Linked DNA regions of Homo sapiens: regions 1, 2 and 3 are each linked to region 4. Evidence: fine-mapped expression QTL. A gene starts in region 4. Each other region holds a variant in brackets. All regions are shown on one strand. Distances are between the middles of the regions. Region 1 overlaps CACNA2D4 (calcium voltage-gated channel auxiliary subunit alpha2delta 4). Region 2 overlaps ERC1 (ELKS/RAB6-interacting/CAST family member 1). Region 3 overlaps CACNA2D4 (calcium voltage-gated channel auxiliary subunit alpha2delta 4). Region 4 holds the start of CACNA2D4 (calcium voltage-gated channel auxiliary subunit alpha2delta 4).

What was found. PIP is the estimated chance that this variant, and not a neighbour inherited with it, causes the effect.
Region 1: its variant is fine-mapped to the expression of CACNA2D4 in whole blood (INTERVAL, PIP above 0.99).
Region 2: its variant is fine-mapped to the expression of CACNA2D4 in monocytes after LPS (Fairfax 2014, PIP 0.95).
Region 3: its variant is fine-mapped to the expression of CACNA2D4 in thyroid (GTEx, PIP above 0.99). The same link has a PIP of 0.9 or more in breast, esophagus muscle, fibroblasts, gastroesophageal junction, sigmoid colon and subcutaneous fat.

Annotation. Positions count from the first base shown.
Region 1 is chr12:1,803,141-1,811,234 of GRCh38, reverse strand. It overlaps CACNA2D4 (calcium voltage-gated channel auxiliary subunit alpha2delta 4), which reads left to right. Exons shown (of 38, transcript NM_172364.5): 28 at 648-692; 29 at 895-957. LOC105369602 (a long non-coding RNA gene) reads right to left here. Exons shown (of 4, transcript XR_931549.3): 2 at 5,324-5,532; 3 at 4,677-4,944; 4 at 3,738-4,105. Among named protein-coding and RNA genes, the nearest start is that of LRTM2, 13 kb to the left of the region's middle. RefSeq lists a silencer at 6,500-6,659 and enhancers at 6,398-6,692, 5,820-6,742. The variant T/C (reference allele first, on the strand shown) is at 3,631.
Region 2 is chr12:1,488,590-1,496,683 of GRCh38, reverse strand. ERC1 (ELKS/RAB6-interacting/CAST family member 1) reads right to left here. Exons shown (of 19, transcript NM_178040.4): 19 at 753-6,591. The coding sequence ends at 6,454. Among named protein-coding and RNA genes, the nearest start is that of LINC00942, 7.9 kb to the left of the region's middle. RefSeq lists an enhancer at 6,725-7,924. The variant T/C (reference allele first, on the strand shown) is at 4,826.
Region 3 is chr12:1,794,684-1,802,163 of GRCh38, reverse strand. It overlaps CACNA2D4 (calcium voltage-gated channel auxiliary subunit alpha2delta 4), which reads left to right. Exons shown (of 38, transcript NM_172364.5): 30 at 520-590; 31 at 1,046-1,121; 32 at 1,726-1,778; 33 at 2,112-2,164; 34 at 2,469-2,489; 35 at 4,629-4,746; 36 at 6,384-6,496; 37 at 6,783-6,865. It overlaps LOC105369602 (a long non-coding RNA gene), which reads right to left and starts at 1,725. Exons shown (of 4, transcript XR_931549.3): 1 at 1,241-1,725. RefSeq lists enhancers at 4,128-5,032, 5,033-5,938, 6,050-6,617 and silencers at 4,960-5,189, 5,290-5,419, 5,760-6,089. The variant C/G (reference allele first, on the strand shown) is at 4,427.
Region 4 is chr12:1,915,110-1,920,648 of GRCh38, reverse strand. CACNA2D4 (calcium voltage-gated channel auxiliary subunit alpha2delta 4) reads left to right here and starts at 1,997. Exons shown (of 38, transcript NM_172364.5): 1 at 1,997-2,402. The coding sequence starts at 2,176. RefSeq lists an enhancer at 3,348-3,924.

The DNA of each region.
Region 1 (8,094 bases), 110 kb after region 4:
AGAGCCCTCAGGTCCCTCTGGGCTTCTGAGCTGCCCCCTTCATCTCCCTCAAGCTCCCTCAGCCTCAATCTCCTGCAACGCCGAGCCCCTCGGCCCCCATCACTTGCTGCTGCCGCCTGACTCTGGGCAAGGGCAGGGAGCCCAAGAGTGAATCGAGAGGGATGGAGGGCAGGGGGCTGCGGTCACCCACCGCCTCAACCAGACAGCCAGTGCAGGAGCCCCACAGAGCCCACAAAGTCCCCTCCCCACACCAGCAACGAGGCCTGGGGGCTGCAGAGCCTGCACCTCTAGAAGGGCTACCTGGGCCCTTCCACCACCCAGGGCCTGCCGAATGCAGCACCCGCAGGCCACATACCACATGCATACCACGCACACAATGCTAACACACACCACACGCATGTGCCCTCCACGTACAGACACCCCACACATAGACACACACATGCACACACCTCACACACGTGCTCTCCACATACGACACACACATCCCACACCCACACCCCACACAGGTGCCCTCCATGTGCAGATACACACCCCATGCACACATGCACACACACTGCAGACGTACCACACACACAGCATTCCCACTTACACGTGCCATTTCTACTACACATGCAGTGTCCACATTCAGTCTCTCCTCTTCCTTCCAGTGCAGCACTGTGGATGGGCCGTGCACACAGAGCTGCGAGGACAGTGTAAGTTCTGCCCGTGTGAGGAAGGTGGAGGAGGGAGCCATGGCCCTCCGCCCGGTCCTCCTGGCAGGCCAGCTTCCCTCTCCCAAATGCCCTCCTTCCCTGCAGTGAAGCTCCCACGCTGCCTTCCAGAGCTGGGGGACAGGCTGGAGGACCGGGGTGGGTGAGGGCCCTGGCATAACCTCCCTTCTGGGTTTCCTCCCAGGATCTGGACTGCTTCGTCATCGACAACAACGGGTTCATTCTGATCTCCAAGAGGTCCCGAGAGGTGAGTCACTGGGGATATAGAATGAGGGGGAGAGGGCGGCAGGAGGACTGGAGACATTGGGCAGCCACTCCAGCTAAAGAGAGCCCCACGGCCCCAGGAGGGAACCCTGTTCGGGGCCAATTCAGGTGAAAGGTCTGAAGAACATGGTGTTCTGACACCAAAGTCAACAGAGCAAGAAGGCAGAATTTGGAGCACTTTTCAACTCAGGGAGTCAGAGAAAATATTACTTCTTCATTTTATCTGTCACTAGCCTGGCCTCCTCCCGTGCCTGGTAGGAGCCACTCAGTGACCCCATCTCAGGGCCCTGCCTGGCCACACTGGCCCAGCCTCACTCGGGGCCTCCCCACAAGGATCCAAGCACACTCACTTATCAGATCATTCCCCAACCCCCGCCTGCCTTTCTACCATTGTGGGGCCCAGAAGACATGGCTTCCCCACTTCATGTTCTTGTCCTGTCTGGACCTTATGGAAAATTATACTCTCACCCACCACGCCCGGCCTTCGGTGTGTCAGAGAAGAAATGGGGGATGGACGCGATGCTTTCTCGCCTGAATGCCTGGCTTGCACATCCTAATCCTCCCCCCGCCCCCGCTGGCTGTGGGTATCTCCCTGAACCCAGCATGTGCTCAGAAAGGAAAAAGAGAAAGTACAATAATATTTTTATACTTGCTGGGCTCCAAAAGGGGCCTCAAAATGGATTATTCCTTTAGCCAGGAATCAAACTGAGAAAGAAGCCCATTCAAACCTGAAGCAAATCCAGATATATTCACCAGATGTATTTCCTTGAAGCAAGGCAGAAGCATCAGAACCGCCTCCTGCCTGAGCCTCGGGGAAAGGGGCATAGTATTTGGTTCTGTGTGAGCTTTGCTACTAATTAGAAACGTGATGTGGGCAAGCGACTTCCATTAGCTGTGTCTCGCCGGGGGCTGGACTACACAGTGTCTAAGCCAGCCCCAGCTGAGGGCTCTAAGTTCCTGGGATGTGGAGGCTGATGCAGAGGTCGTGGCCAAGGCCACCTCCACGCATGGTAGGGCTGTGGTCTGGCCTGACCGGGATGCGGCTTCGGATCCAAAGAAGTCGTCGGAACAGGGCAGGAACTGGAGCAGGGATGTCGGAAGGAGACTTGGGAAAGAGGGCAAGTGAGGACAAAGGGGCACCAGTGGGTCATGAAATCTAACTCCTTGGGGTAGTGTTTAAATGACCCACTTAACGAGCAGCAGTTCTCAGCCACAAGAGTAGAGAAGCCAAAGATGGTTTCGTTCAACTTCCTGTTGGTGGGAGTGTGGGCGGGGCTTTGCAGGACACACAGCTAATTGAGCATCACGGTCACCTGGGCGCCTGCCTCTGGTACCCTCCCCCTTCTCCCTTTCATGCCCCATTTTCGTCATTTCACTCCTCCCCAGACAGAGCACCGGACCTTTGTATTTTTCCGTTGTTCTGGGAGAAAACCAGTGATGATAAGAGTTGAAACCAGTGGTTGGTGTGAGGCTCTGGGATCACTGATGCCCCCTCATTCGTGCTCCGACCCCTCTCGCCCTGGGTGACTGAGACTGACCGTGTCCCCAGGCCTCCCGTGGTGTTGGCTTTCAAGGGCCGGAGCATGGGCTAAGGCATCCCAGAGAGAGCTTGCATCCTGGACACTGGGATGGGAGGTGGCAGGACAGAGGGAGAGGATGGCCAAGCCTGAGAGCAAGCTCAAGAGCAGGGGTAGGCGAGCGTTTCCTAAAGGGGCGGATGCACATGTTGGTTTTGAGCTTCATGAGACTCAGCCCTGCTGTTGTAGCAAGAAAGCAGCCATGGGCGATCTGTGAGCAAATGCAGGTGGCGTTGCTCCAGTAAAACCTTTGAATACTGAAATGTGAATTTCATATAAATTTCACGTGTCATGAGATGTTATCAATCTTTTGACTTTTTTTCCCCAACCACTTGAAAATGGAAAAGCCAGTCTTAGATCAAGGGCTCACATGAATCAACAGTGAGCCAGGCTTGGCCTACGGGCTGTAGTTTCCAGCCCCTGCTCCAGAGGCAGCGGGACAACCGTGCGGGGAGGCGGCCCTGGAGGGAAACCACCCCAGCCTTGAGAGAAGCTGGAGAGCACGTGGCCTCTCCAGGGTCCCTCCAGGGTCCCTCGAGGGACCCTCTCATAACCCACTGGGCCACTTTGGTCCTATTCTGTCCAGACCACATTTGCTCACATGTCTTCACAGATTGTAAAATCACTGAGAACAAGTTTGGATTAGATGTGGTAGCAATCAATTACTCAGAGATTTATATTTTATAATGTATTTGTTGACTTAACTCATTCACCCCCATTTTCTCAATGATTCTATTACCTTTTTACCCCGTGTGTAGTTTTATATGCCATCCCAAACCCTCCATGAAATGAAGCAGGGCAGAAACGAACTGACCTTCTAGAGGCTCCTGCTGGGGCCCCCGCTCCCGCCGTGCTTGGCTCACCCTTGCTCCCCCACTGTGATCAGGGCCCAGTTCCTCCTTCCTCACTCTGGACAGCTCTGACCATGCAGCCTGAACTGTGTCGGGTTATGGGAGGGCACTAGGCCAGAGACCCTGCCTGGTGTGGTGCCTGGCACACAGCAGACACTGGGTAACCGTGTGGAGAACTGAACTGGCCTGAGAGTGAGGGCTGGAGGCAGCAGGCGCTAGACTGGGAGA[T/C]GAGTGGAAGACAGGGCGGCGGAGAGTCTGGGGCTAATGCCATTTGTTCAGCTGTCCGACCCTCTGTCCGTCCATCTGTTTTTGCTGTTTTTAAAAAAACTTACTCATTTAACAACTCTAGAGCAGTTATCTATTGCTGCACACAAACTATGGCAAAAAGAGTGGCTTACAAGCAGAAGACTTAAAATCTGGCAGTTTCTGTGGGTGAGGGATCTGGGTGCGGCTGGCTCAGGGTCTTGCACAGGCCACAGCATCAAGGTCCCCAGGGCTGCTGTCATGTCATGTCCAGGCTTGACTGGAGAAGGATCTGCATCTGGTCACACGTTGGCAGCATTGAGGTCCTCCAGGGCTGTGAGGCGGAGGCCTCCTCTCCCATCACAGGGCAGCTCACAGCAAAGTTCACAGTGCAGCTCACAGCTCAAAGTTCCTTCATCAGACCGAGCAAACCAAGGTGGAAGTCACAGTCTTTTGAAACCTGATGTCAGAAGCGACACCCCATCACTTTTACCATATTCTGCTTGCTAGAAACAAGTTACTATGTCCAACCTATACTCAAGAGGAGGGGCTTACACAAGGGCAGGACTCCCAGGAGGCCGGGATCATTGTGAACCACTTTAGAGTCTGCCCACCACCAACTCCCACCAACCGACCCAAACCTGCCCCTCTTCCCCAAACACACAAGTGCCATCGAGGGCCACAGGGCCTGGCCTCCCCTAACTCATTCATTCCTCACTGCTCCTCCCTGCTTATCTCTAGGCCTCCAGTGTGGCTGAAGGACAGAAGCCCCAGCATCTGGGAGCTTGTTAGAGATGCAGATTTGCCAGGGTCCCACCCCAGACCTAGGGACTCAAGCACTCTGGGGTTGGGGTCTGGCAGTCTGCTCAAAGGGGCCCTCCAGGTGACTGGGTGCATGGTGGGTTGAGAACCCTCCCCAGGCCTCCTGGCTGCTGTGGATCTCAATGCACTTTAGCTGGCTGCTGTCACTTTCCTGACTAGGCAAATATGTCAAAGGCTTCCAGCGACTCCTTGTCCCTGCTAGGGCTTACCCAGGGGCCTGGAGAGAGAAGCCTGTTGAGCTACAGATGCAAAGATTCTTCCCAGACAAAGTCCTTGCACACCCTCCTCCCCGTAGTCAGTGAGTGGGGAAACCACAAGGGCCTCATCTGCAGCCAGCCCCAGGGAGTGGCTGCTTGGCTCTTTCTTGGCACCGGCGGTGTTCCAGGCCTGCTGATTAGACATTTGGCCTCTCTTCCAGGCCAGGGCTCATTCTTATAAGAGTTATGGATGACAAGATTGCAACCCTCGATGTGGGGCCTAGAAAGAGAAGCAGACAGCTGGGGACAGGCAATGACAGTGGCTTTGTGGAGCTTTGTAATATTTATAGTGGATCTGTCACCCTGAATCTGGGGACTCCGATTCCTGTCATTTGCTTCTGGGCGGCACCCACCCATGGAAGCTTCAAAGTGGATCTTCAAGGGGCAGCAACTGCAGCCTAGAAAATCCGAGGCCCCATCCCAGCACCTTTCCCTGAGGGACCTGGATCTCTCAGAGCACAGCACCCTGCTCCCTCCACACCCCAGCCCAGTGAGCCGGACCAGGCAGGCCCTCAGAGCAGGGCATCCCTCTCTGTCGTCAGGGGGCATCAGGCATGCCTTTCTGGGCCTCGGCTCCTGTTTCTCTGAATCCCTCTCACCTTCCCTGCCGCCTGCGGCCCGCCCAGCCCAGGCTCCTCATCTTCAAGTCACTATCCCAGCCTGGCACGTGTTGCCATCCTTTCCACTCTGGGCAGCCTGCCTTGGCCATCTTCCGGGACACCACATGCCCTGGCAGCGGTGCTCCTTCTACCTTCCTGGCGTCCCAAATGGCCCTGCTCCACTGGGCCCTCCAGGAATAGAATTAATCCTGTCGTGGTCAGAGGCAGGCTCTTCAGGTGGCTTTCTGGGGAGTGCAGTGCTGCCCCACCCCCACCCCGCTCCTCCACGTACCTCCCAGGCACCCCTGAGTGTCCAAAACACTCCTTAAGAGACTGCAGCCTGGAGGACGGAGGGGCAGGTGAGGCTGCACAAGCCAGGAGCAGACAAAAGGAAACTGATCCCGACCCGAGCCAGACACAGGGACTTGAGTGTCCACACCCCTTAGGAGGATGAGCTCCCATCTTTAGAGAAGAAACGGAGGCTGTCCCCAGGTAAGGAGGCCATGGGACATTTACTCCATCTGTCATCAGAGTCAAGAGCACCCCTTCTCTCTGGGCACAGCCTCCCACAGCCCTGCAAATTAGTCCAGGCCTGGGAGGGACTACCCAACCTCTCATCACTTGGTCGCCTGCCTCTGCCCCCATCTGCTTCCCCCGCAGGCTTCTGGGTGGTGCTCACAGGACCTCCTCCTCCTGGCCTCCCTCCAGACTCGAAGGCCAGGCAGGGGGGGTCCTCGACTCTTTTGACCCAGCCCCAGAGTTCAGGCAGCCCACGGGCCACTGCTTATTTGTGAATTGTCCCCCATGAAAGGGGGGCTGGGGTGGTCAGGCCCCTGCATCGTGCTATGCTTTGGGTGCCACTCCACGGGCGGTCTGGGGCTCCTAAATCGACAAGGCATCCCACGTCGACGTTTGGACCTTCGCTTTGCAGGTTCAGGGACTGTATTTGAGTCGGGGATTTGCCCTGACAAAGTTCAAAAGAAACTATCAGCCAGGAATTGTGTTCTGCTGCCAGAAGAGAAGTGGCTTAAACAACTAAAGGTTTATTCTCTCATAAAAGAATGGATGAAGGCAGCCTGGGCCCAGCCTGTCCCCATCCGCACGATCCCAGCATAGCTGGAGGGGCTCCTGCCTTCGAGTCCACTTCCCAGAGCGCAAGAGCGAGGATGGGGAAGAGGCAGGAGGCCTTGGGCCCGCTTCCCGGAAGTCCCTCCCAGCGGCTCTGCTCACATTCCATTGGCCAGTCCCTGCCGCAAGGGCTACTGGGAAATGTAGTCTTTTCGCTGAGCACATGGCTGCCATAATTAAAGTCAGGCTGCCTAACTAAAGAAGACGGGGAGAATGGATATTTTCTGCCAGAGTGACAAATCCTAGAAAAATCAAGCTAGTAATTTATGGAGGGGGATACATTTTTCTAGTGTCCAGGATACACATCCTTGCTCTCAGGGACCTCTCTTCTCAGAATCCAGGGTCTAAACCACAGGGTTGTTGGTGAATAAGCCTAGAATTAGGAAGGAGAATGGGACAGGTTTGTAGGAATTAAGACCAGCCTCGTCAGAAGCCTTGTCTGCACCCCGCTGCACTTTCCCAGGGAGCAGAAGACTCGGGTCATTCATTCCCTCACACATTCCTTCAGCAAATATGCATGGAATAATAACTGTGAACAGGACATGGTGTGGTGCTGTGGGACAGAAGTGGATTTCTGTCCCCTAGAATCCTGCTGTCAGGTGAGGGGGTGACGGAGGGGACACACACACACACACACACACACACACACACACACACACACAGTAACTAGAATAGCAAAAAGCGAGCCCCAGCTGAGAGAGTTTACTCCAGCTGGAGGCACCAGGGAGAGCTTCAGGGCTGCGCCGTGAAGAACAGGCAGGATTTCAATGTCTTTCACATTCCCATGTGCTGTTGTGTCCCTGGAATGCCCTTGACCCTCCCTGCTGTCCCGCTGCCATGTCCACTGCCTTCTTTCATGCAGCCTGCCAGGGCTTTAGGTTGCCACTCCTTTCCACCACCGTAGGAGGTGCCGGTTTTCAGCCAGCCATGTCTGAGAGTTTGTGTGTTCCCTGCCTGTCCATGCAAACTAGTCTGAAGCTCTTGATTCGTGTCCATTTCATTCATCTTTGCATCAGACTCACCTGGTGAGTGCCTTATGAATAAAAGGTATTATGAAATAGTTTTTGGTGGTCAGGCCATTCCAGGTAAAGAACTAGCAGAGTGTAGACAGACAAGTGTGAGCACCTTTGTCTGAATCTGTTTTCCTGCTGCTTACTTTTGTAATTGACCCTCCATTTTTAGATTACAATTTGCCATGCATTTTTAGTGGGTTGCATCCTTACGTTTTAATTTTATAAGTCAGCCATTTCCACTTACACAGGAAATACTGTAGGATGTAAGGACTATGTTTTGTTATTTAAGTCCAATTTGGAAAGTAATACTTCCTGACTCCATCCCAGATTCCTGGTGTGGGCGCATCTGGGGACCTGTGGCCCCATATTGGCTGATTATAAGTCACAGCATTATGAACCATGGGCATAACAGTTCTGGGGTTATTGTCCTGAAGCTGCACCATCATCTCTTATTTGAGAGAGAACTTCTCTGGTTGTTCATTGGGTGTTCAGGAGTTGTGCGTTCTGCCTAGCCCTTGTCTGGAATACATCTCTGTTCCCTTCAGAAGGCTTGCTGGAGTCTACTTGGCTGCCCAGGGCAGGCCCCAGGTGGGCACCCAGACAATGCCTGGCTTTCCTTGAGATTGGCCA
Region 2 (8,094 bases), 430 kb after region 4:
AGTTTGGACTCTCTTGCTACAATTCCCAAGAGCCAACACCCAGCGTGTGGCAGAATTTACACGGGAGAGGGAAGGAATGCAGCAAGCTGGCTTGATTCCTCTCTCGGGCAGACACAGAAGTGTGGCTAAGCAGAAAAGTAATTCTCATAAAAGAAATCCTCCAGAATAATTTCTTATTGAGCATAAAGCCCAAGACAAATCCCAAAGCTGGAAATGACAGCCGCGTCCAAGCACAGGGTTTCTCGGCTCCTTTTACTCTTGGCACACACACTTTCTGTTGACCCAGCCTGCACGCCCCAGAGTCAGTGCATCAGAACGCGCCCTGCTGAAGCTTGAGTCCCAGTCCTGGGCAAAGCCCTCCCTTGGTGGCCGCCCTTCTGGCTCTTCTACCTTGGTACAACAGCAGCACCATCCCTCAGCGCTGGGCACCTACTCTAAGCTCTGGAACAGTGAGACCTGATACGGATAACCTGGCCCGGGGCTGAGGGTAGAAAGAAGGAAAAAGGGAACCGGGAATTGACTTTAAAAGCTGCAAACCCGGAGATCAGGCGGGAAGGGAAAGGAGGCTCATGCCCGTCAGGGCTGTGATGACTCCCACACCCACCGTAAATCCTGGGACCCCTGGCCCTCGGGCTGCCTGCCATTGGAGTTGGCCTCTTGGGCACTGCAGACCTTGTCCATCTTTTCTAGCATTTGGGGACACACCTTGCCTGGATGATCAGCTGGGTGACACTCAAAGAAGGACACAGCACGGTTTTTAAATAACTTTATAATTTCCTGGTGGATTTAGTTTGTGAATAAAAAAGAAAAAATGAACAAAGTGTTTACAATAATTATCAAGGCAAAGTTGAATATAACACAATTTCTTTGTAATGTCATTATCCTGTCAGTAACACAACTCCAGCAGGAACACACACATACAGCTGAAGGCAGCGGGTGCACGTGCATCCCAGACACCACCATGGAGGCTGCTACTGTTACCAAAAGGAACTCAAGCTACAAGGGGGCAGGTGCTCCTCAGCTCCTCCACTAAAGTGCAACACTTCTCTTCTGACGCATCAGGGAGCAGTCACAGGCCCCACTGGATATCCTGCAATGCCCGGCAGGTGCCTGGGCTAGTCCTGCGATGGGCCAGCAGGCCAGAGTGGGTGGTGCTGCCCTCAGGATGTGTAGCTGCAGTAGATGGATGCAATACTGGCGTGGTGTGGAATGAGGGGCTGGACCCAGAGGGCCTGCTTTGGCCGGGGTGAATTCTCTGGCTTCAGTAGGGTTCACTTCCTTTCCTGACAGTGGCTTCTCTGGGGTCAAGAGAGAGCCTGGGCCTAGGAGATCTAGGGTCTAAAAAAGCTCAAAGGGAAATAATTGAGGGCCTGAAGCCAGAAGGAACTGACATGGAGGACAGTCTGTTCCACCTGGATTGCAGGCTCCAGGCTGGCCAGTGCTCACCCGTGCTGGGTGGTCACTGGAAGAGATAGCACCAAGTGGGCAGGAGAGGTCCTGTGGCCTGCCAGGCAGGGGCTTCAGGGTCAAGCCCAGGTTACCATGCAGTATTAGGCACACTGAGCTAGAACCCACGTCGGGTGAGGGTGGTTATGGGGTCACAAACTGTGAAACCTCTACCCAGAGGTCCTGAACATGTATAGGAAAATCCTGGCACAACTGCGAGGCTCTGAGCCCCAGATTCTCGTTCCTTTTGCTCGGCAGGTGTCTCTTGCCCAGGCAGGCACTACCCTAAGTGTGCTCCATGCTTCCTAAGCCGCCAGCCCAGGGCCACCTATGCCAGCCTGGGAGGAGGGGAGTGTGGCTGCCCCATAGCTTGAATTCCTTTATTAACAAGATATTGGTTTGCATTTTTAAAACACAGCTGTTTAATTTTTCATTTCTACAACTACGTTTTAATCTTTTAATAATCTCAACAACAGACACAATGTAACTGCCCCAATTCTCTGAATCACACAGACAATATCGACAAGCAGAGAAAGAAGAGAGGAGGTGGGATGGGACAAAAACCCGCTCCCCCAAATCAATCCCTAAAACCACTTCTCCCCCAAGAGTCAGGAGAAGTACCTACAACAGGGCCACAGCACTTGCCAAACACATTGGAAAAAATCAGGAGACAGTTGGTTACATTTTTGACACTAAAAAGTCTGGAGACGGTTTTTGCTGAAGAGTAGGTGAAGATAGCCATTTTGTTCAGAAGGATTTCCCTGTAATGTATGTCTTTTCTTGCAAGAAGAGTAGGTGAAGACAGCCATTTTGTTCAGAAGGATTTCCCTGTAATGTATGTCTTTTCTTGCCTAATTCTTCCCTAATTTGCATGGGGGAAACTCCAGATCCTCTTTAAGACATTCCTTTGAGTGGTTCACGTCCCCTCCTGAGCAGCCCAGGGCTGGCAGTGATGGACGGGCGGCCTCACTCTGCAGAGGGTGCCTGCTGCATTGCAGTCTCTTCTCATCCTTCCTCCTCAGTTCCGAACCCAGGCAGGTGAAGAGGAGGCCAGGAGCAGATGTTAAATTACTGGTATTTGCTGACACAGGGTCCGCTGGGCTTGAGAAATGCCATGTGGTGTCACACTCCACGCAGCGGTCTTCTCTGCTTGGCTCTTTCCTCAAAGACTCTGAGGGTCTTGACACCGGGCCTACACTCAAGTAACATGGTCAACAGGAGGGCGGGATGGTTCTGGGAGGAACAGGACTCTGGCAGCAAATCCAAATGCCAGTGGATGGGCGGCTCAGAAACATTTATATTTTGGGGTGACACATGATGGTTGCCTCACAACCCTGACCCTCAATAGCGGAGGGATTAGTTCAGCAGGTGGCTAAGACCGTGTCTGTGATGACTTCGCCTTCCTCTTCTCTCACTCTGGGGGTGGGTGAGCCCGCAAGTTCCTCATGGAAAACCAGACTTCAATGGACAGAAATTGAGGGGCAAGTCACAATGCCCTTCTTGACACTGAAGGCGGCCTTGGGTCCAGTCTGCTTTACAAGTTATTTCTAAAACCCAAGTGTGAGGAAGTCTGAGAGCCACAGGTAGATCTTTAGATTGTAAAGTGCAAGGACAAAGGTTAAAAGGTTAGAGCTGAGATGAATTTGGTGATTCCCATCCATATATATATATATATATATATATATATATTTTTTTTTTTTTTTTTTAAATGGAGTCTCTGTCACCCAGGCTGGAGTGCAGTGACACGATCTCGGCTCACCGCAGCCTCTGCCTCCCAGGCTCAAGCGATTCTCCTGCCTCCTGAGTAGCTGGGATTACAGGCGTACGCCACCACGCCTGGCTAATTTTGTATTTTTAGTAGAGTCGGGGTTTTTGCCATCTTGGCCAGGCTGGCCTCGAACTCCTGATCTCAGGTGATCCGCCTGCCTCAGCCTTCCAGAGTTCTGGGATTACAGGCGTGAGCCACTGTGGCCGGCCCCATCCATATTTCTTAAACATGTTAAAGCCCGTTCAAAATTTTTCCATTTCAAATGGTATCAAAGTCCTTGCAAATCTCAATTGAGATACCTCATCAATGATTCAATGAGTACCGGGGGTTAGAGGTATATGAAAAGATGAGAAGCTCACACTGGGCTTCTTCAGTTACAAAACCCCGTTGGGATCACACCCACTCTTCTTCGTGCCCTCTTTATGGTGACATTGGTTTGGGGTGCAGATCTTTAGGTGCTAAAGGGCAACTAGACTTGCCGATGGAGGGGTTTGGGGAAAATTAAGGGCAACCTGCACTGAGTTTTCAAGGCTATATAACTTCAGTAGCAGTTGTATGCCCATATGAAACCATGACCACTAGGAGAGGGGCATGGAATGACAAGTCCTAGTGTGATGGGAGTGGGACATTTGGTTAAGTGTTGGTTCAATGATCTAGACTCAATGAGACACTCTGAAAGCTACAAACTGCATCCACTCTGCCCTACAGCACGAAGGCCACGTTTATTACTGAACTCCTAGCCAGCCTCCAGTGCCCAAGAACGGTCAAGAAGATTCCTTGCTGTTCACAGAGACCAGACAGATGATATCGGTCCCGGAAATGCTTCTTCTCAGAAGCAGTGTCACAGAGGGCTTCCTTCCATCCGTTTTTCTGGAGGGGAAGTGATGGAGAATGCTGAGATGAAGAGGAGAGTGACACACCCAGTGGCTGAGAGTGGCAGGCGCTGCACCTGATGAGAAAGTCCACGTGGGTGGGATCTGGGCCACCTGCTTGGAGAGAGCAGCTGGCCAGTGCCCGTGCCAGACCACTTGTTTAGGCATGGCCTCGCCTGCTGTCTTGGTTCCACCGTGGCCCCGTGAAGGCTGTTATCACACCGCAGTTCTTTACGTTATGGTGGATAAAGCGAGATGCTAACACTCCTGCCTTTCAGTGCTGGGAGCTTTCTACATGGTTTACGGGCACTGCAATGAACAGAATTGAGGTAACTGACCACAAACGACCACCACTTACTATCTAACCCCTGCACCCCTCTCTGGCCAGCCTGGCTATCAGGAAGCATCTCAGTAAGAGGTTTATGAGCAGAGTCCATTTAACCTTCGATAAGAAACGCTCCACAGTTTCCTCTCACAGGGAGAGGGATTGTTTCACAGCAGGGAGTAGGGGGAGCTGGAAATCTGACCATGTCAGTTAATGGGACAGTCAAGGGCTGGTGGTGGGAAGTTCCTGGACTGATGGGGCTGTGCTGACTCTACAGACTTTAAATTCTCTGAGTAAGTGGGGAAGGAGAGGAGAAAATGCAAAACAAAAACATCGAGTCCAGCAACTCTTATCAGGAGATGTGAGTGTCTGCTGGGTTCTGGTGGTAGAGGTGGTCAAAGAACTAGATTTGGG[T/C]TAAGTTCCTGCCTAATTATTTATGACTGCTGTTGTCTACGCTACGTCCTTAACAATGCCAATACCTTCATTGATTTGCAGTCTTGGGGTCAGCTTTCTGATTTGCAACATGAAGCTGGCTGAATTCCACGAGGTACATGCAGATGTCAGGAAATGGCCACCCACAAGTAGATACTCAGAGCCCCTCTAAGGGCAATAACAAACAGCAAAAATCCAGAATCATCAAATGGAATCCTACAGGCAAGCGGGTGACTGAGACCCCCAAACTCATGAATTCCATTAGGGAACTTTTCTAGAAAACACACCTTAAGATCGGGGAGGGGAAGGACATGCTATTTACTGCTTCAACTCCAGCAGGTATGTCTCACAGAATCCACTACATCTCTCCCTCACTGAGAAGTGGCCTTTTCAAGGATGGATGACTTGCACACAGTAGGCATTTCATAAATATTCTCTGAATGAAATAACCGAGGAAGGAATGTGTGTAGGAGGAAAAACCTTCATTTATGCTAGAAGAAGGTTCCAGGCAATGCACGAGGCTGAGGTTCAGAGAAGACGAGTCAAGGGCAAAGCTAGCAGGGTGAGTGAGGGATCACAACTTCAGCAGCCACTGGGCTGCAGGAGCTCAGGACACGGGTGCTGGCAAGGCAGGCAGCCTCTTGGAGGTGTTCAGGGGAAACCAGCCCAAGAGCAACGGGCATCTGTTACTGGGGCAAAGCTGCAGGCGGGGACAACAGGGTCTCATATGTCAACTTTGTATGTTCTCTTTTTAATTTTTTGTAGAGACAGGGTCACGCTATGTTGCCCTGGCTGGTGCTCTTTCAACCTCACATGTTCTTCAATTAGAGATATTTGATCTAACACCTCAGTATGATAACGTCAACAGTCTCAAACAGGAGAGACTGGTGGAGAACACCTCACACCATCTTCTTGTTAACTGGCCGAGGAACAGAGTGAGGAAGGCTGCGACAGACAGGCAGGGCTGGATGAAGACTCAGACCTTGGGAGAACGAGTGCTCCCAAGCCATCGTGAGGCCTGCTCACAGCTCCCCGGTACAAAGCATCTCATGTGGAAAGTAAGCAGAAGAGACAGTAAAAAGAAGAGTCGATTTTCTCTTCCCTTCCCCCCTTCTCTTTTTCTAATCTTTTTGAGATTGTTTTTTGCCCTTTTAGGAGAAAGCACCTATTGTGATATTAGAACACTCAGCTCTCTGGTCCATTGGAGGCATCCTCTCAGCCTGTTGAACTCCAAGTCCATTCCTGGTTTCATTCTCATGTCAGAGGACAGGAGGTGAGAGGCTCCTCTGCTCCATGGCTCTCTGTCAGGGCAGAGCCACCAGCTCCCACAGTTCTCCACTGCTGATGACCAGGTGGCAGTTCTTCAGAGAGATTCGACCCTTTATCTACCCTGGACATCAAGAAGGTTAGTGTAGAGACCACATCCAAAGCAGAAAGGCAGAGTAAGATGGCAGATGTAGAAACGGTGCTGGAATCACACTTCTTCAAGTGAGCAAGTTGGGATGAAGTTTGTAGTGTTTGGTGCCAAGAAGGTTCCGGGCACCTGTTCCTCGTAGTTCTCTTTTCTTGGCTCCTGGGTTGACTACCTCAGGCTTCCCCATAAAGCAGGGTCAAGAGGACTCTTCCAGGGCGTTGACCACTTGCTCTAGGATGTCGGGACAATGGTCTGCTATCTGCTGAAGAATGGCGTTGGCAAACTCCTGCAGTTCTGCATTGTCCCGTTCACCTTTCTCTAACTCATCCTGAAGCTGAAAGGGAAAGGAGAGATGGATTTCAGATACAACAATCCCATTTGCACTGAGCTAAGAATTATTTTTCATCAATAAATGACAAAGGCACTCTGTATGTGAAGTCTCTCTGCATCAAAATTAACCATAAGAAAAGTGTAAAAGCAAATATCAAATGCGTCTTCATGAAAGTGAGGCCCAAAAAGTTAGTCACTGGTTCTAGGCCGAAAGCTGATCATTTTTGCAGAGCTGTGACTTCAGTCCTGGCCTCTCACTGTAAACAGAATGTTCTCTCCACCAAGTCACAGGCTCATGAACGTGCATGAGAGCAGGAGAGAGGGGCATGGTGATCTCAGAGAGGATCCTAACCTTGTGGAGCGACCCTCGCCCTAAGGGAACTTAGAATTTAAAGGACTTCTCCATTTGCCGTGTATCGCTTTCATCCGGTACATTAGCCTACCCACCTGAGGCCTGCTAATTTAGCTGAAGAGATTACTTTGAGAAACACAAGATAATCCCTTTGCTTAGAAGTAAGTATATTTCTAACTTCCTGTTGTTTTTAACAGCCTCTTTCACATTCCTTCAAGCATTTTAACCAACCTTTATTGAGCGCTACTCTGTGCTGGGTGGTGAAAGCTGATGGGATTTGGTCCTTGTCCTGAAGACACATTTAGGTTAATGGAGACAAGCATGTAAACAGATAAACGACCACCCAGCAGAGTGAGGCCGCAGCTGAGGCTTGAGCATGTGCTGTGGCAGCCCTAAGAGTGTCTGCTCACCCTGAGGAGTCTGAGGAAATGCTACTAAAGAGGCGTGGGGTCTGGATCTTCAGAGCTGACTAGAGTCCGTCTGGGAGACCAAAGACAAAGGAGGCTTAGCGCAGAAGAACAAAGGCTGATGCGTGGGGCTGGGACAGGCCTGGCCCAGATCTTGCGAAAAGGGAAGCCTCAGGATGGCAGGAATGTAAGGCACAGGGAGTGGGTGGAGAATGACAGGAAATGGAGCTGAAAACACACGCGAGGGCCAGACTGAGCACGTGAAGTGAGGACGTTCCAGCGTGATCTGCCTAGAAACCAAACCACAACCACAAAAAAGGAGTCCACGCAGTTTTAAATGGTACAGTGACATGAGCATCGCCACTTTCTCAGACTGAGCAGAAGGAAGAGTCCACCAAGGGCAGCTCCTGCTCGCAGCCCAGGTGGGGGTTAGGCAAGGCTGATGCAAGGGAGGGCCAGGGACGTGGAAAGGAACACACAGGTCTGAGCCTCTTCAAAAGGCAGGACTAAAAGGAGGAGGTGTCAAGTGAGGGAGAACTGGAGAATCATTTCTGACAATTCTAGCTGGGGATATTGGACAAATAAGACCAAGAACGAAGGAGACAGCAGGTTTTAGGAAAGAAAGGAGGAAAATTAAAAATGGAATATAAAGTCTAGTTAAGAACATAGGCTCTGGAGTTAGGCTGCCTGGGTTTCAAGGTCAGTTCTGCCGATCAGTTCATCTGACCTTGACTTGTCTGAGTCTCAG
Region 3 (7,480 bases), 120 kb after region 4:
CCACAGCAGCCCTCTCACACTGGGAAGATGAGGACACCAGCGTGCATGAGACAGGCGCTGCTTCTGACCTTGACCTGCAGAAACGTGTTTTATATCTGACCCAACACACACACACACACACACACACACACACACACACACACACACAGCATATAAAACAAATCCAGTTTCATAAAACATTCTTTAACCTTGCTGCAAGTGATTCACACAGAATTGTTCCAAGGAATTCTGTACCATTAAAAAAATCACATTGCAGCCTCTACGTTGGTCTCATAGTCAGCTAGCGGGTGACTCCTTCCAGTTGAGGAAGCACCAGGCTGGACGGTGAGGAGGGAGCCAGGACCGGACAGGGGCGTGGGTGGAAGGGTTCAGCTGGATTATGCTGAGAGGCAGTCAGAGGGAAAGCCCAACTGGCACCAAAAGCCTCGACCTGAGCTGAATAAATAGTGCTGGACTCGGAAGGCTCCATCCTGCTCCATCTCTCTCCCTCCCTCTCTCTCTGCTGTCCCTCTCTCACAGACGGGAAGATTTCTGGGGGAGGTGGATGGTGCTGTCCTGACCCAGCTGCTCAGCATGGGGGTGTTCAGCCAGTAAGTGGGGCACACTCCTCCCCAGTCCAAATAGACACAGCAAACCGAGAGCTGACGCTAAGTGGTCCTGGCGGATCTCAGGATCCTGACCTCCAAAACCCACAGTGGGTGCCCCCAAAGAGCTGCAAAAGCAACCTTTATGGAGCCAGGGCGTCAGCATGATGTGGGGAGGGCGTAAGGGCATGTGGGCATCCCTGGGAGGGGCTCCGCAGCTCAGACCCTAGAGGGAAAACCGTCCAACTCCGAGGGCAAAAGCCATTTGCTCTTCATTGTCTTTAAACCATTCCAAGTGCAGAAATGTAATTTTCAGCATGAGCTGTATTCTGATCTGCTGTCCTAGCTCAGGCGCCCTTGGGAATTGCGGTAAACGGATGCTCTGCTAGTAAAGCCTCCTGAGGCAGGGGCAGGGGGTGGGGGTGGCTTTGGACTCATCACAGCCCGCTTCTGATTTTCAGAGTGACTATGTATGACTATCAGGCCATGTGCAAACCCTCGAGTCACCACCACAGTGCAGCCCAGCCCCTGGTCAGCGTGAGTGTCACCCAGCCCTTCCCTCTGCCAGCCAGCCAGCCAGTCCTCTGCCCTGTCCTGGAATGAGGTCACTGGTCCCTGTTCTCACCCACCTTGGGTGTCTGGCCCCAGGGCCCTACCTTGACCATCTCCATCTTCTGCTCAGAGCCACTGCTCTCAGTCCCACTCCCAGGCAGGCCTCTGGGTCTGGCTTTGGGGCTTCAGAGGGACTGCTCTGGTAGTTGTGACACAACAGTGCCTCTGGCGGAGACAGAGAGAGCAGCCTGCCCCAGCCTCAGCCCCTGACACTGCCGCTTGATCACCAGGGATCCTCAGCAGTGCAGCACCAGGATGAGGGCTTGACTCGTCTCCTGGAGGGGCATGTCCAACCCCACCCGAGATGTCTGACCTGCAATAGGCATTTCCCAGCTAGCTCAGCTCTGCAGGGCAGGTGGGAGGTGGGGGGATGGGGGGTGCTGGGCTGCTGGCCTGTGCTCTGCTGCCCCTGCTCCCAGTGGCAGGGCAGCCCACTCTCTGGTCTCTCTGAGGGTGGTGCTGGTGGTGGGGGGGGGGCACCCTCACCCTTGGACCTAGGTGCGAGCGGTGTGCACTCTCTCCTTCCCAGCCAATTTCTGCCTTCTTGACGGCGACCAGGTGGCTGCTGCAGGAGCTGGTGCTGTGAGTGGGGGTAGACACGGGGCTGGTGGAGGGCTGCATGCGAGGGTGGCTTAGGAGGGTGTCCTTGAGCAGGAGGCTGCAAGGTCTCCAGGACAACCCACTTGCTACCAGACCCCGGGGAAGGAGGGCACAATCCCTGGGCATGGACGCCACCTCTTCCCTGCATGCTGCCCCTGGGAGGGACCTCATTGCTCAACCAGAGCCCTCAAGCAGGGAAGAGGGTGTCCTGGAGGAGAGGGGATGGGCCGGGGGCTGTCAGGGATACTCCAGCTCCTTGGGAACCCAAGTCGGGAGGGCTCAGAGGTCTCCGAGATTCAGTCCTGTGTCTGACAGGTTCCTGCTGGAGTGGAGTGTCTGGGGCTCCTGGTACGACAGAGGGGCCGAGGGTGAGTGCACGGAGCTGCAGGGCCATGTGCTGAAGAGCAGTGGCATTTTGGTCCACTAACGTGAGACCATTCCCTGTGGGGTGGGTGACAGTGGGGATAGGTGACCCTGAAGCATCGTTGTTCACATCTCACCCTGCGTGGCCTTCTCTCATCACATCCCTCACTCCTGGCTCTGTGTGTGACATCATCTTGGGACACCGCCACTCCATGTGCCATCATCACCACCCCATGACATCCTGCCCTCATGTGCCACCATGTTTTCCTGTGCCGTGTCCACCCTGTGCTGGGCTTATGTTCCGGCCAGCCAAAAGTGTCTTCCATCACTGTAAGTAGCCCAGCTGAGGCCATCCCTGCTGGCGGTGGGTTGGGGACGCAGCAGGAGCTACAAAGAACCCACCCTCCATGACCTGTCCCAGGAATGACCCCAAGCAGGGCTGAGCTCTCCTGGTTTAAAGTACCATTCCTGGGGGTTGGGGGACTGGGGAGTCTAGCCCAGTTCTCATCCCACATGAGGACGGTCAGGCCCCAGGGAAAATGAGAAACTCCAGCCTCCCCTTGGGTGAGAACACGTAAGATTCCAAGAGGAAGCCGGTGGTGTGGCCGGGTGGCCATGAGCCAGTATGAGTGAGCAACCTCCAGCCCACCCCTTGGAGAAGCAAACAGCGGCACCCCAGCCCTCAGCGGGACTCCGGGTTCCAGGGGCCCCAGGAAGCTCTCAGGATGATTCCCCTGCGGGACCCTGTGTCTGAGGACAGAGTCCCCCAGAGGCAGCAACCATGAGAGGCCCCAACACAAAGCCCGGTGGCTGTGGCCACACGTGCAGGGCGGCAATGAGCCTGGCCTTTCAAAGCACTCACTGCCCGGGCGCCTGGGCCCTCCATGACTGCAGGAGGCCATCTTGCCTCAGCGGGCTCTGCTCAGTTCCTCCGTGTTCCTAGAACCTTTGCCATGGGGTTCCAGAACTTCCCACCACCTGGGCTGTCCCCAGCTTATCCCATCTCTTCATCTCCACTGTGGTCCTCTCTCTGGCTTGCTCTTCGTTCTCTTCTGCTGGCCTTGGCTTGGGGCTTCCTCTGCCCCTGGGCTCAGGGCAGTTCGGGCTGTGTCTCCAGACTCCTTCTGGACTCACATCCGCGATCGGGTGGGGCTGCTCTGGGGTGTTCACAGTCACTAGGTGTCAGTGACAGGACACTGTCCCCTCTGTCTCTGTCAGCAGCTGCATCTTGCAAAAGTTGAAGATGATCCCCCTCAATCTGCCTGCTCAGAATTTCTCTTCTCTGGGGTACCTGTCCCCTGGAGCTCCTCCCCCTGGTCTGGCCTACACAGATGTCAGTGTCCCCAGTGAAGGCGCACTGGACTTGGAGTCCCAGGCCGGGGCGTAGGTGCTGCAGCCCCTTCCACTGCGTGACCCTGGGGACGCCACTCAACCCTGCCATTGTCAGGCAGGCTTCTGTGCCCAGCCCTGGGGACAAAACTCACAGCCCTGGCCGCTGTGGGCTTGCTCCTCTCGGTGAGAGTTTTCTGCACGCCAGCTAGTGTCCCCTCTGGGTTTCCAGCTCTGGCTGGGAGCTTCTGGATTTGGAAGCTGGGGAGACCCATGCTCTCCTGTAGGACTCTGCATGAGCCTGGGAAGGTAGCTCACACCTGTGCTCCCTGCCTCTAGGTCTATCCCTGGGGGCCACAGCCAGGCCCTGAGAACAGAAGGGCCATGCAGACAGCCTGTGTGGCAGGGCCCTGCTCTGCCATGTGCCCACCTCAGGAGGCTCCGGGAGGGAACGGACTCGGGTCCTGCAGAGCGGGGCTGAGGCACTCGCCTCCACCTTTGGTTGAGTCCACTGTCCTTGTCCCAGGGAGCTAAGGCAAATCGCGCAGCCCCCGAGGAGTCCCGCACCGGGTGGCTGTGGCTTCTGGGCTTCCGCAGCCCCAGGCCTGGAGCCCACCTGCCCGGCTGCCCCCACCGCAGGCGCTCAGGCTCAATGGGTGGAGTGTGGGCCTGGCTGTGCGGGAGAGCAGGGCAGGATTGCCCAGGAACTGCACTGCGTCTGTCCACAGTGAAGGGAGGGGTGGTGGGCCTAAGTACCCCCAAGCCACCCCTTGGTGCCCCTACTGCCTCTGCTCCCCGCTCAGACCCTCCCCCGGGATCTGAGTGCTGGAAGGGGCCCTGGAGATGGTGCACTGCCCCCAGCTCAGTGAGGGCCAGGCTCCCCAGAGGAAGCGCTTTCCCTCCACCGAGGCTCAGGGCCCCTGCGGCGCTCCCCGTGC[C/G]AAGCCACCCTCTCCAGAGACTCCGGGTGTCTTCCCTCCCCTCACCCCCCGCCCGGCTCCTCCCACGCGTGTCCTGAGAACTGCCTGAGGAGGGACCCTCTGCAAATGCACTGGGGTGAACTCTGGCCCTGGGAGTGCCGAGGCGAGGTCACCGCAGGCCAGAGGCCCCTTCGGTGGCGTGATGTCCTTTCTCCGCCCGCAGCCCACAAACACAAGAAGCAGGACCCGCTGCAGCCCTGCGACACGGAGTACCCCGTGTTCGTGTACCAGCCGGCCATCCGGGAGGCCAACGGGATCGTGGAGTGCGGGCCCTGCCAGAAGTAAGACCGCAGGGCGGCGCCGCCCGTCCCGCCACACTCCTCCCGCCCTCGGCAAGGCGGAAGTGCGGGCAGGGCCCCGGAACCCCCGGGAAACGGCTCCACAGCCGGGAGGAGGGGATGCGTCTAAGTGCAGAGCCCACGCTCCCGGGGTCTTCCCCCGCCGTCCTCAGTGGAGGAGACACGCAGGAGGCGGACGGTCTGAGGCGGGCAGGACGGCTGGGGACCGGGACAGCCGGGATGGGGAGAGGTGGTCCCGAGGCCTGACCCTGTGTGTCGAGCCCACCCCGCCGAGGCCGCAGCCGTGACCCCACGGCGTCTCTGGGCGAGTGGGCCCTTCGGCGGGTCTCCCCCAGCCCTGCTCAGGCGGTGCCCAGGGCGGTGCCAGTGCCCGCGCCTGAGCTGCGTGGGGAGAACTTGGAAGGCAGAGGGAGTGTGAGAAGAGAAGGCCGGAAGTGTGCGATGTCCTCGGGTCGCTGGGAGCCCCGCGGGCAGCCTCTGTCAGGCTTCCTGCTGTGTGGAAGCCGCTAGTTATAACCCGCCCTGGCCCCGGGGAGGCAGGGAGGCCGCGCGGAAGGGTCTCTCCTGCTGACCCCCCGCACCCAAGCCCGGGAGGACCCCCACGCTGGGAATGCGGCGGCCTCCTCGAGGGTCGCCTCAGCCAGACGTGCCGCTCGCCAGGCGGTCCCTAGACCCCCGGGCCCGTGGCACACCATTTAACAGTGCGGCACCTGCGGCGCTGGCATCGGGGCTCCCTTCTCCCCCACTCCCTGCGCGTCGTGCTGCGCGGGTTTCACCCCGGGTTCTGTGCAGCGTTGAGGGCTGGGGTTAGCGTTCCCTGTGCACTTGTCGCAAAGGCTCGGTGCGAGGATAGAGCCAGCGGGCTCCGGAGTGAAGCGAGGGCTTCAGAGTAGACACTCCTGAATTGAAAACTGGCTCTGCGCTCCCCCGCTTATGACCGTGGGCAAGTGACTTCGCCTCCTCTAGTCTCCATTCTCTCATCTGCAAAATGGGCACAACACCAGCCTCATACAGAGCCGTGAAGGCTGAGAGTATACACGGCTGTGGTGTGCACGTTGGGTGTGTGAGACCGCCCATCCCAGGGGAGGCGCTCGGTAGGCGGCCGCTGGGACTGCTGGGAAGGCCGTGGGCCTGGCGGGCGGGCTCCGCCCCACTCCGCGCCACTCCTCGCAGGGCGGCCTCGCCGAGCGCGGGGCCACTGCGCCACCTGGTGGCCAAGCTCCAGCGCTGCCGCTTCGCCCGGGCCTGCCCCCGCCACCCTCACCCAGAGCAAGTGTTGCCTCGCCCGCCCATTTGCTCCGGACGGTCTTGATTTACGCCTGTCGTCCCTGCATATATTAATAGCAACTCTGCACTCTCCAAAGCGGCCCAGTTTGGACTTCCTCACTGTCTCCAGTCTGCTAGGAAAGGAAATGCAGCAGCAAAGGCTTGTGAGCAAAGCCAGTAGGACTGAGCCATCTGCCAGGCCCGTTCCCTTAGCTGCCCCGACCCGCCCTGCCTCATGGTTCCGGGCTTCCCTGCCACCCTAACTCCACACTAAAGTCTCCAGAAGTTCCTTCCCTAGAAGCCCTTCTCGTGGTCGCCACGGAGCCATCCTCGACTCCCTTTCTTTGCTGCAGGGTATTTGTGGTGCAGCAGATTCCCAACAGTAACCTCCTCCTCCTGGTGACAGACCCCACCTGTGACTGCAGCATCTTCCCACCAGTGCTGCAGGAGGCGACAGAAGTCAAATATATCCTGCAATGCTCGGGGATGTGTGCGGTGGGGGCGGGGGCTGTAGGAGGTGTCTGTAGGGCTCAGATTTTGAGCAGCGGGGCCAGCCTCCTTCACCGCCCGTGTCCTCCACAGGGCTCCGTTATTTGTTCTCTAACCCTTCCCTGGGCCCCGGTGCTGCCTCCTGACCCTAAAGCTGCTTGCAGGGCAACTGGTGGCACCAGAGCAGGTTCTTCCAGACCTTTTTCCAGTCTGCAGAATGGGCTCCGGTCCTGAGATATTGACCTTAACAGTGGCTTCTGCACATAATGCCTCTGTCAAATGTGACCGGATGCGCTCCCAGAAGCTCCGCCGGCGACCAGACTCCTGCCACGCCTTCCATCCAGAGGTGCGGGTTGAGGCGGATCGAGGGTGGGCTGGATTTTCATCCCCAAACCCTCTGTGCCTGGGTCTGTGCCCCTGCAGACAGGAGCATATAGGGATGCCAATGAACACACCTGTGCCTGTGCTTCTCGGGGGAAACATTCGCGTTTATGCCCTGTGACACTGTGATATAATAAGAAACAGATCTTTATTTAGTCTTTGTCCTGATTCCTGGCAAGCTCCTAAAACGCTTGTTATTTCCTGATTAGGGTGATAGGTGCATCTTTTGTTATAGTGTTTGGTCTTAGTCCCTGGTTCCTTCACAGGTGCCTCTAAGACCCTTGGAATGATAGAGGTATCTTTGTATGCTAATTAGATGACTGGTGGCTGGGGGCCCTAGACAGGATGAGAGCTGGCCACAGGAAACACCAAGTTAGGATTAGAGGGTTGGGACTTTTGGCTCCAAGCCCCTGGCTTCTGGGAAAGGAAGGGGGCTGGAGACTGAGTTGATCACCAGTGGCCAAAGATTTAATCAATGATCATAATGAGGCCTCCATAAAATCCCCGAGCCACTGTGTTTGGAGAGTGTCCGAATTGGTGAAAGGGTGTGGGAGCTCTGCGTACCCCGTGCCTTGGCCTA
Region 4 (5,539 bases):
AAATGAGCCAGTCATGGAAGGACAACTATGTGATGACTTCCCTTCTGTGAGGTCCCTAGAACCGTCAACATCAGAGATACAGAAAGGAGAGTGGTGGCCGCCAGCGGCTGGGGGAGGAGGGAACGGGAGCTAGTGTTTAATGGGTTCAGAGTTTCAGTTTTACAAGATGAACGAATTATAGAGATAGATGGCGGCGAAGGTGGAGCAACATGATTAATGTATTTAATTACACTAAACCGTACACTTAAAAAGATGATTAAGATGGCACATTTTATGCCACAATAAATATTGGGCCACAATAAAAAAGTTGAAAAAAGGTGAATATTTATTCAGTTTTAAAAATCATTCCAAATTACAAATTTTAAGAAGCTGGTGAATTCCACCAAATTCACAAAACCTAGAGAAGTTACATTCTTTTTATGTATTGACTGCCCAGTGTGCCTCTGTAGTATTTTTTCTAAATGTGTTTGATTTGTAATCCTCAAAACATGTACAAAATTTATGTGAAATTAAGGCATTCATAGGAATCATTTAGATGCCTTTAAAAAATACATTGTATTCAGCCACAAAACTGTGCCACCAGATTACTCTGATACTACAGCACTGACTTATTGATGAATCTGTGTAGGAGTTTTGTCATCAGAACACTTGCTTCTGCAAGCATTTCTCTGCGTTGGTGGCAATTTTGCTTACCATTTTGCTGGAACCACCAGATTTTGTGAAGACACAGTGCACCAGTTACACTAAGAAAATAATCTGATACGGGGACTGCATAAAATCTATGACTTCACCCCCGGAGAACCCATGTGGTACTACTACTGGTTTGGGCTCACAACACAAGAATTTTGATCAATTCTAATTTGTGTAACTCTCATCAGAACACAAAGCAATGTACGGTGTAATTATATTCTTTCAATATCCACTATTTTCCTAACAGGAGAGAACTTCTGTCCTGGCCAGGCCTTGGTGAGAACCAAATCCTCCACCAACGATGTTACCTGTGTGGCTTTTTGTAGATTTTCTGCAGATGAGCTCCTGACTGTTACTTTGCCCTCCCCACCACACATGGCCAGGGTGGGTGTGACAGCGTGCGCTCACATCACGGCCCAGCCTCTCTTGCTGCATCTGCTGGTGGGATGTCCTGTGGGATGAGTGTTCCTGGAAGCCCTGCCTACACTCAGCTGGAGGTAACTTCTCTGTACAAAGAAGTCACTGTGAACCATGTCAGCATATCCCACTAAGCCCAGATTAAGTGTTTCCCCAGCTCACTTTCCTCTTAACTGGATCCCCCAAGTGCCCTCAGCCACCCAAACATCATCCAACTAAGAGTCCCTCAGACGGAAGAGAAGTTGGGATGGAAAGAGACAGACAGTCTCAACCGGTTATGGTTAAACTATCTCAACTTTTGCATATTTTACAAAAACATTTGGCCACAGGAACACATTGCTAGGGCCTCTCCGGGAAAGGGGGGAGTCTGTGGATTCAGGGGTCCTGAAGCTTCATCAGTTGCACAGCAAATGCGTCCCCAGCCCCGCCCACGAGCAGCTGAGATGTGGAGGCGTGGGTCCACTGACTTCACCTATGACCTATGACCTGTCCCAAAGGCACCAGGCCTGGAAACACCAGCCAGAGTCCCAGCTCTGCCCCTGGGACTCCCCGGGCCTCAAGAGCCTCTGCCAAGCAGGGATGAGGACACACCCCCACCTCAGGGTCAACAAGAGATTTGTGGGTCAATCAGAGTACTGTGCAAACTCAGCTGCTGTCCTCTGGCCATAGTCACAGCAAGCCCTTCCTGGGTCCAGAAGGTGGTTCCACAGGAACGGGGCTGCCTCTTTAAAGCAGAGGGGTGCACTATAGCCCTGAGGGAACCAGCTGCAGTTGTGGTAATCTTGGGAGGCAGCTCCCCACCCCCTGCCACCCCCTCCCTGCTGTCAGGAGAGGATTAGAGGAGAGGCCAGCGGATTAAAGGGTTTCATGTTGCCACAGCCTCTCCCCCAGTCCCTGTCTCCGAGGCCTGCTTGCTAGGTGGGGCGACTCTTCTGTGAGCTGCAGCTGTGGGGCAGAGAGAAGCCCTCCCCACCCAGGACTGAGAGGCTGGAGACCCCAGGCTCGCCAAGGCACGGAAGACAAAGGCCTGGGGCGTCCTGGGGTCTGGGAGGAAGGCAGACAGAGCTCATGGTCTGTGGCTGCTCTGCCCTCCTTCCCCTCCCCAACCCCAGGCCCACCATGCCTGCAACTCCCAACTTCCTCGCAAACCCCAGCTCCAGCAGCCGCTGGATTCCCCTCCAGCCAATGCCCGTGGCCTGGGCCTTTGTGCAGAAGACCTCGGCCCTCCTGTGGCTGCTGCTTCTAGGCACCTCCCTGTCCCCTGCGTGGGGACAGGCCAAGATTCCTCTGGAAACGTAAGCATCACGTTCAACCCCACCCCAAAAACCCGGTCACCCTTTCCCACTTTCTTCCCGGGCTGGGCCTCCATCCTCTGCCCACTCCTCCCGCCCCTGCCCTCCCTCTGGGCTTTTCCCCAGTGGCTGCGACTGACCACTCTCTTGCTGTAAAGCCCTTTGCTTCTCCGGCCTCCTCTTTCTCCTCCCAAAAGCTCTGTGAGTTCTGGAGTCCCACCTGCCTCTCCCCAGGAGCCGGATGGCTTTAGGAAGAACTGATCATCAGGGCTGCTGTCTTCCTGGCCTGACAAGCAGCTTCTGGGACACCTGAAGGGCGGGTGCTCCTTCAGGATAATCGCTGAGATGAGGCAGCCTGGAGGAGCCGGGTTATCTCAGCATCGCAGCTCCCCGAAGCATTTGGCAGGAAATGCGTATTTTGACATTCCAAAAAGGGGAAGCAGTTCTGAACCCACAGAACGTCTCATGCGCACAGGAGGTGGCTTGTCCAGGAACTGGGGAAAAAAATGGATTTTGGTGGCCGCAGTCTTCCCTTTCTACACCTTTCTGCCTCCTTCCAACCTTGATTCTCTAGCCGGCCATTAAGACCGGCTCCAGGAAAGAACCCGGTATCAGTCATGTGCACCTTGGTGTACATGTAAATTACTGTGCAACCTCTCTGGGGTGTCTGTGTTTTAGGCCCTAGCTCAGGTGGTCCTAGGAAGGAAATTTCCAATACATGTGGGTAGCAGAGCCTTCTAGACTGTAGGTGCTACAGACCCCATCCTGTTTACTCCAGCCGCTTGAGCCCAGCACCATAGCCAGGCCACCAACAGAGCCACCTGCCAACTGCATGTCTTAGCAGGAGTGGGGACAGGGAGCCTAAATGACACACCGTGCCTGTGCTTAGCCTTTGCTGACCAGTGGATTAGGCAGCATCGTTTCCCATCGAGCCGCATAGCTCTCCTTGTTCCCTGCCTGGCACGGAGCTGGGCGCTTCACAAATGACACCGTTAGTTTGCAGAGCCATTCAGTGGGGGCTTATTTTTATCCCTATTTTGCAGCTGAGGAAACAGAGGCCCCGAGAGGTCAGGTGACTTCCCCAAGTTCACAAGGCCAGGAAGTGAAGGTGCTGGGATTTGAACTCCTGTCAGCCTGGACTGCACTTTCACCATTACACCCGCCGCCAGCCCGTAACGCTATCTGTTGCTGCAGGAGATGTTCAGAACAATTTTCATCCCCAGAACACACACCAGCTGATAGGAGAGGGCCAACTCCAGGAGTGGGCTGAGGGCCAAGTCGGGGTGGCTGGAATCCAGGCCTTCAGGGAGGGGGGCCCCAGCGGCCATCTATGCAGAAGCCCTGGGTGCTGCCAGAGACAACAGCCTGCACACAGCCTCATCTGCCTGCCCAGGACTTGGCCCCACCTGTCCTCACTCCCGCCGAACCTCTCTTCTCAGTCTTTCCCTCCAGCCGGGCTTCCACCTCCTCCCAAGTCTGTTTCCACAGGGTTCCCAAAGCCCTCCTCATGCCCAATCCAGGAGACATTCCTGGCCTTGTCACCCCAGACCCTGTTGCTTGGGACACACAAGCCCCCGTCTTCTTTTATCCCAGTCCTTGACTTCCGTGGCACTGCGCTCCGCTGGGCCTGCATGGGCACGGCTTATCTCTGCTGTCCTCAAGTGCTCCTCCTCCTCTGCCTGCCCCGGAGGTGGGGGGTGCTCCCCAGCAGCTGTCGACGCTCAGAGATCTCACGCTGCACACTCTCCTTGAGAGAGCCCTCCTGCCCTCAGAATTTCAATCCCTACCTTTGCATCAATGACTCCCAGCCCTGTCTCTACCTACTAGACACATACCCAGTGCTTATGGGCAGCTTTTCCTAAACATCATGTGAGGTTTTAAATTCAGATTTGTGTCTTTCAAGGTAAAACACAATTGGTGCCTTCTAGAGTTGTGCAGTGCACAACCTTCCCAATGGTACTTGGTAGCTCTACAACGGGAACCTCACATTCAGCAGAGCCCAAGGTACACACATCACTTTTCACCCTCCTCAGCTCATTCCCCCTGCCCTTCCTGATAGTCTTAATTGTATTCAGTAACAACACCATCAGGTCAACAACCCACACTGGAAGCCCGGAAGTCACGTTTTACTCCTCCAAGCTCTTCTGTACTCCCGACCTAGAATCCTCTCCCAGACCCCTTTGCAGGCTAACCTCTACCAAACTTCTAACCTGGAGCTCAGATCTCCCTCCCCAGGGAAGCCTTCCCTTATACCACTACCCCTCCCCAACCTTCATGGGCACCTTCAAACATGTACTATGCTACCCGCATGACAAAGCTGTCCCTGCAAGGGTGGGGACTGTGGGGTGGCTCCAGGCTGCCACATGGTAGGACCTTGATAAACATTGGTTGAGTGATGACTGCTGATCTTGAAAGGATCGCACAGGCAAACCACTTCCGCTCCATCTGGAGAGGCTCAGCCCCAGCCCTGTGTACCTGCCCCCAGGACCCCACCAGCCTGGCCAAGATGGTGGGATTGTGGTGCATTTCTGGGGCATGGGCGAGAGGTCGGGGCTCCCCACTAGGCTGCCTACACAGAGGGTGAGGTGTGGCCTCCTTATGCCCTCCTGGCCTGCCCTGCCCTCAGGCTCAGCAGTGGCAGCTCAGAGCCTTTTCCTGCTGTGCCCTTGCCTCACGCGTTCTCTGAGGTTTCAACAGAGGGTTCGGCAGCCCCCAGTGGCTTTGAGTGGAGTGCACTGGAGGGAACGATTTATTGAGAGGCCACAGCTGTGGCCAGGCAGGTTGTCCTTTGTCCTCAGGGTCCTCCGGCCCTGGCCTGAGGCTGTCCACTGCCTCTCCCCTCCTTCTCTCCTCTCAGTCTGCCACTCTCCAACCAGAGGCCCTGGAAGCTTGGGGTCAAGCTCAGTCCTGGGCTCGTCAGCCCGGCCCCACAACCCTCAGCAGGAGAACCTGCCGAGGACATTCAGCACACAGCAGTGCAGCCGCTGGGTCCTGAGGGTTCTCCGCGTCTCCTGCCCAGGCCATGGCTGTAGCTTTAGGGACAAGGAGGAGGGACAGGTGCTCTTTTGTGTGTTTCTGGGCATATGTCACGTGTGTGTATGCATATGCATGTGTGTGGGGGGTATGTATGTGTGTGTACG